Regions from separate parts of the Homo sapiens genome. Here region 2 is linked to region 1. Evidence: fine-mapped expression QTL. Tissue or cell type: lung. Region 1 holds a variant in brackets; the other region holds the start of a gene. All regions are shown on one strand. Distances are between the middles of the regions. Region 1 overlaps MARCHF6 (membrane associated ring-CH-type finger 6). Region 2 holds the start of CMBL (carboxymethylenebutenolidase homolog).

Region 1 (2,913 bases):
AGTCCTTTTTCCTTACTCCTTTAATCTGGGCTGGTTTTGTGAATCCTGGACAGAGGCGATGCTGCCCAAGTTCCAGAGCCCAGAGGAGGGCCTGCAAGCTTCTTCTCTTGCCCTTTTAGAATGCTGCCCTGAGACTACCATGTAAAGAAGCCCTACTAGCCTTTTAGAAGATAAGAGGCCACAAAGAGAAGAACCAAGGCATCTCAGACAAACCATCTTAGATCATTAAGTCCCAGTAAAACAGCTGAGTGACCTAGGCAAGCCCAATAGATGAAAAGCTCAGCTGAGCCCAGCCCAAACTGCTGACCCCAGAATTATAAGCAAATAAAATGGTAGCTGTTTTAAGCCACTAAGGTTTGGGACAGTTTGTTTTGCAGCAATAGATAACTGATACAGTGCACCTAGACATGACCTCAATTACTGAGCTACAGAATACATAGAAACTGGTAAGACATTAAGGAAATTTAAAGTAAAATTTCACAGAAAAAAAATTCTATAGAGAGTGTAAAACATTACTCAGAAAAAAAGTAGTTTGGTCACAACTGCTATCAGAAAAACTGGCTCAATTTTTCAAACTGTAAAAGACAGCTAAAACCAAGCCATGTTTATAATTTATTTTGACTAGCCCCACTAGGCTTCCAGTGGTCCTCTGGAGTCAATGAGTAGTCTAATGAAAGCAATTCAGGTGACCCTCAAGCCTATCAGGTGAGAGGGAAAAAGAAGCCTGCCAATATAAGGCAAGCAACAATGCTTAATATCAAGATATAGTAAAGTAACTACAGGCAAGTTCTTAGCATTTATATTCTAATAATCATGGAAAACATTTAAAAAATAAATTTGAGTTCAAATGTGTATGTTAAAAACACATGTTAAAACGAACTCTTGGGCAAGCACAGTGACTCATGCCTGTAACCCCAGCACTTTGAGAGGCCGAGGCAGGCAGATTACTTGAGGTTAGGAGTTTGAGACGAGCCTGGCTAACATGGTGAAACCCCATCTCTACTAAAAATACAAAATATTAGCCTGGCTTGCTGCCACATGCTTGTAATCCCAGCTATTCAGGAGGCTGAAGTAGGAGACCCAGAAGGCAGAAGTTGCAGTGAGCAGAGATCACACCACTGCACCCTACCCCAGGTAATAGAGCGAGGCTCCATTTAAAAAAACAAAACAAAAAAACTTTTGTGAACATAAGACAGTAGTATGTATCTCAAACTGCGTGACAGCCTATTTAAAAAGTCATCCCGGACGGGCGCGGTGGCTCACGCCTGTAATCCCAGCACTTTGGGAGCCCGAAGCGGGTGGATCACCTGAGGTCAGGAGTTCGAGACCAGAGTGACCAACATGGTGAAACCCTGTCTCTACTAAAAATACAAAAATTAGCCAGGCATGCTGGCGAGTGCCTGTAATCCCAGCTACTCTGGAGGCTGAGGCAAGAGAATC[G/A]CTTGAACTCAGGAGGCGGAGGTTGCAGTGAGCCGAGATCGCACCATTATACTCCAGCCTGGACAACAGAACAAGACTCCATCTCAAAAAAAAAAAAAAGAAAGAAAGAAAAGTCATCCCATCATTACAAAACAGTCCCATAAAACAGGTATGTTTTAAAAGAAGTGTCATTTACATTTATCAGCTACTTCTACTGCAGCTATAACTGTTAGTGTAATAGACATAAATTATTGTTCTCAAAACAAAAGAATTTACAAATTATAATAAAATAAATATGCAAGGAAAAAAGCAAGCATCATCTACATCATGCAACATTCGTCACAGAGGTTCAATACTCACGTTGACAGCATATCTAATGGCAGCGTCAGTAGTGAGCTCACGGAGCCAGTAAACAAGCACTTGTAGATGCGGCCTACCGAAAAAGAGCATGATGGCACACAGTCACAACTCGCATCATGAATTCACATAGCTGCTCAAGAAAGCAGAGGTAAAGTGGAACGCCACAAATGCCACTGAAATAAACATTTAGTCTTTACAAGCCTAAGTCTCAAAATATTAAATTTTTAAAAACACAGTCAAGCACAAATATAGTGACAATGAAGAGTAAATGTTACACAATCATGTTTAGCACTTAGATTCTCTCTAGGTTTAGTTGCTTTTTTTTATTGAATGAGCTTAGATGTTTGAAAAGAAAAATCTAAAGTAAAGATCTCCAAAATTATAATATAAAGAATTTTTTAAATTCTAGAATTCCAAAATTCATTAAGTCTGCTCATGACAATAAAAGGTTTCAGTTTTGGAGGTATAAGTCTTTGAAATTAAGAGAATTTTTCAGTAGAGTATGTACTGCAATGCCATAAATGGCAACCTGACAACCAATATTTTAAAAGCACAGATTCACAGGTCCTCTAAAATACAGAATATAATTATTCTAAATTCTGGCCATTTAGAGAAAGACAAAGTATGGGTGAACGAACTGCTATCAAGGCAGAAAGTCTTTTAGTCAGGAAAGCAGAATTCTAGACAGAATGAGATAACAGACCACAGATTTGAAAATGGGGCACAAGAATAAAAACCTGAGGCTTTCTTTCAAACCAGTATTTGTGTATTAGCTTAAGCATTCCCTATATAGCCTTGTATCGGAGACTTCCAATCAGATTTTCAGTGACTTCAATGGCTGTTTTCAAAACCAAGTCAAAATGGAAAGGTAGGAAAAGATTTTCTGTAATAAAAATTACTTACATGTTTATAAAATACTCAGACAAGTATGCTTGTAACAATGTAAAACTGACAAACCAAATGTTTAGATAGGTAAATGGATTCATGTGCAACAGGCCTTCTTACTACAGAGTGCTGTGTATCGCTAAAAAAAAAAAAATAAGACAGCACAACACTCACGTACATGGAAAGACCACCAGGATACGATGCTAAGCTAGAGAAAAGTTACAGAATATGTATCGTGTGATGTAATTT
Region 2 (2,913 bases), 80 kb after region 1:
CCTCTTCCTGGCATACAGATGAGGAAGCAAGCTCCCTTGCCTCTTTTTGTAACGGCACAAATCCCATTCTTGGGGGCTCCACCCTCATGACCTAAGCATCTCCCAAAGGCCCCGCCTCCAAATACCACCATGGGCGGGGTGGTTAGGATTTCAACGTACAAATTTTGGAGGGGACACAAACATTCAGTCCATAACAACACCTTTGCAGTGGGGATGGCAGGAAGTGCGGCCACCACGGTGCAATGGCTTTTTAATGTGCCCATTTGTCCAGGCTGAGCTATATTCCTAGAATTCCCTTTTCCTGTATGTTTCCAGTTTGAGTGAGCCACAGGGGTGTGCTTCTGCAGCCAAGTTGAAGCTGTTGTCATAACCTTGGGCAGATGACCAGAGAAAATACGAAGGAGGCAAGTATGAAACGTGTATTAATTTCTTTTTTAAAAAAAGGCTTAATTTGGGGCTGGGGCCGGGTGCGGCGGCTCACGCCTGTAATCTCGGCAGTTTGGGAGGCCGAAGCAGGTGGAACACTTGAGGTCAGGAGTTCGAGACCAGCCTGGCCAACACGGTAAAACTCCGTCTCTATTGAAAACACAAAAATTAGCTGGGCGTGGTGGCGCGTGCCTATAATCCCAGCTACTGGGGAAGCTGAGGCAGGAGAATCACTTGAATCCGGGAGGTGGAGGTTGCAGTGAGGTTGAGGTTGAGATCGTGCCACTGCACTCCAGCCTCGGCAACAGGGTTAGACTCCATCTCAAAAAAAAAAAAAAAAAAAAAAAAAATTGTGGCTGGGCATGGTGGCTCACACCTGTAATCCCAGCACTTTGGGAGGCTGAAGGGGAGGATCACTTGAAGCCAGGAGTTCGAGGCTCCAGTGATCTATGATTGTGTCACTGCACTCCAGCCTGGGTGACAGAATAAGACCCTATCTCTAAAATAAAATAAAATAAAATAAAATAAAATAAAATAAAATAAACAAAAAATAGCTTAATTTGTATTTACAACAGAAGTTACTTGTCTTGGAAGCCAGGCACGCACGTAAATCTCACAGAAGGCTGGCTGTCTTCCTTCTCCTGGCCTCCCTGCCTCCTCCCTCAAGGCTGCCTGATTCTCTTCTCCCTTCCTCTCTGCGGTTCCCTCCCTCCCACCCCCTCTCCCTGCACCTTTCTTTATCTTGGAGCCTCTCCCATCTCTCCCTCCCTCTTCCTCCCTACCCCACCCTCCGACCACCCCACTTCTTCCCCTCCCCTCACACTTCCCTCCCTCCCTTCTCTCGTCTCCTCCCCACTGCGCCTCCCTCCCTCCTGGCCTTCCTTCCCTTCCCCGACTTTGCAGATTTCTCTTCCCCCAGGCCTCCCTCCTCCACCTCTCCGCCCCCTCCGGGCTTGGCTCTCCCAGGAGGCTACGACTGGAGCCACTGGTCCCGCAGGATCCCCGCGTCCTCGGTCGCCGCGTCCACGTCCCTCTCGCGTCCCCGCCCGGCGCCACGCCGCCTCCTCTGGGTTCGGCCTCCGCGCGGTGCAGCGCAGTCTCAGGCCGCGGGACAAGGTACGTGCGCGTCCCCGGGGCACACAAGCCCACACAAGCCCGGGCCCCGCTCCTCTGAACTCCCGCGTGTGTTCTGACTATGGCAAAGAAGGTCTTTGCCGCGTGCACGGGTAAGGAACTTCCCATAGTCCGTTTTCAGAAGCTGACTTTCATAAAAGTGATACGTTGTCCTTGCAGAACAGCAGCCTCCACGATCCCATGCGTCCGAAGCAGCCGCTGTTTACATTTTGGTATTTTCCTGTAGGTGTTTCGCCATGCATTTTAAAGACATAGTGGAAATCACACCGTATGCAAACTTGCGTTCGTTTTGGCCATTTAGCACGGAGGAGCCTTTCCACCATGCCGTTAAATACTCCTTGTAACTCTCTTCCTGCAGTGAGACATTCTGGTTGTAGCGTTTTTACTAATATAAAACTATTAAAAAACTGAGCATATTTGCAACTAAATCAGCATCCACATTCGACAGCTTTTCTTTAGGGTGGGTATTAAGAAGAGAGGTGCTGGGTCTATGGATCTAAGAGTGGGACATCCTAAATGCTGGGTAGGTGTGCCAGGAACGACTGGACAGTTTACACCCCACAGCCATGTGGGTCGGGCAGGCCTTGGAAACACTGGGCACTGAGATTTATGTCCACTTGCTGATGGAAGATGCCACCTGTTGTTTTCAAAGCCCATTTAAAATAAAGTGGTTAGTAATGAGCCTCGCCGGTATCCGGGGAATCCTGTCCAGGCCTGGGAACCCTATCCAGGCCTAGGAACAGCCAGAGAAAAAGCAGATTCTGCAGGGGCGTCGTTGGCATGTCTAAGAGGGCCATTGTGGGCTCATCCAGGTAGCTTCCTAATTCATGCTATCTCGACCATAGACACTTGGAAAATACAAGCATGGCTGCTGAAAAATAAATATTTGGAGAAGTTTGATGTTTGTAGAATCATCTAAGGATAAGTACTGGCCCTGCCTTCCCTGCTGCAAGATTGAAAATCACTTGCCATGCAAGTTCCTACAATGTTTAAGCAGTAAAGGAGAAACCTCCTGCCTTTCCCATTAGACCCCACTTTCCTGTGTTGTCTTGGGGTCCTCTGTAACCCTGAGCCCTGGATGCACTTCCACGTGGTTTCTATTTCTAAATTTCTAAAGCTTCCAGAAATGTATTCCTCCCTTCTCTCCTCTCCTCCCCGCTGCGCCTCCCTCCCTCCTGGCCTTCCCTTCCCCTACTTTGCAGACCTCTCTTCCCCCAGACCTCCCTCCTCCTCCTCTCTGCCCCCTCCGGGCTCAGGCTCTCCCAGGAGGCTGGAGATGTATTCCTAGACTTCCCTGCTTGTTATAATCCCAACTGCACCAGTCCCTTTTGCTTGTCAAAATCTGTTTTCTCT

What was found. PIP is the estimated chance that this variant, and not a neighbour inherited with it, causes the effect. A credible set is the group of variants that fine-mapping cannot tell apart.
Region 2: it holds the start of CMBL, and the variant in region 1 is the best candidate, but not a certain one, in a credible set for the expression of CMBL in lung (TOPMed, PIP 0.60).

What each region holds. Positions count from the first base shown.
Region 1 is chr5:10,385,933-10,388,845 of GRCh38, reverse strand. It overlaps MARCHF6 (membrane associated ring-CH-type finger 6), which reads right to left. Exons shown (of 26, transcript NM_005885.4): 5 at 1,780-1,852. Among named protein-coding and RNA genes, the nearest start is that of MIR10397, 15 kb to the left of the region's middle. The variant G/A (reference allele first, on the strand shown) is at 1,441.
Region 2 is chr5:10,306,254-10,309,166 of GRCh38, reverse strand. It overlaps CMBL (carboxymethylenebutenolidase homolog), which reads left to right and starts at 1,265. Exons shown (of 6, transcript NM_138809.4): 1 at 1,265-1,542. RefSeq lists an enhancer at 1,487-1,987.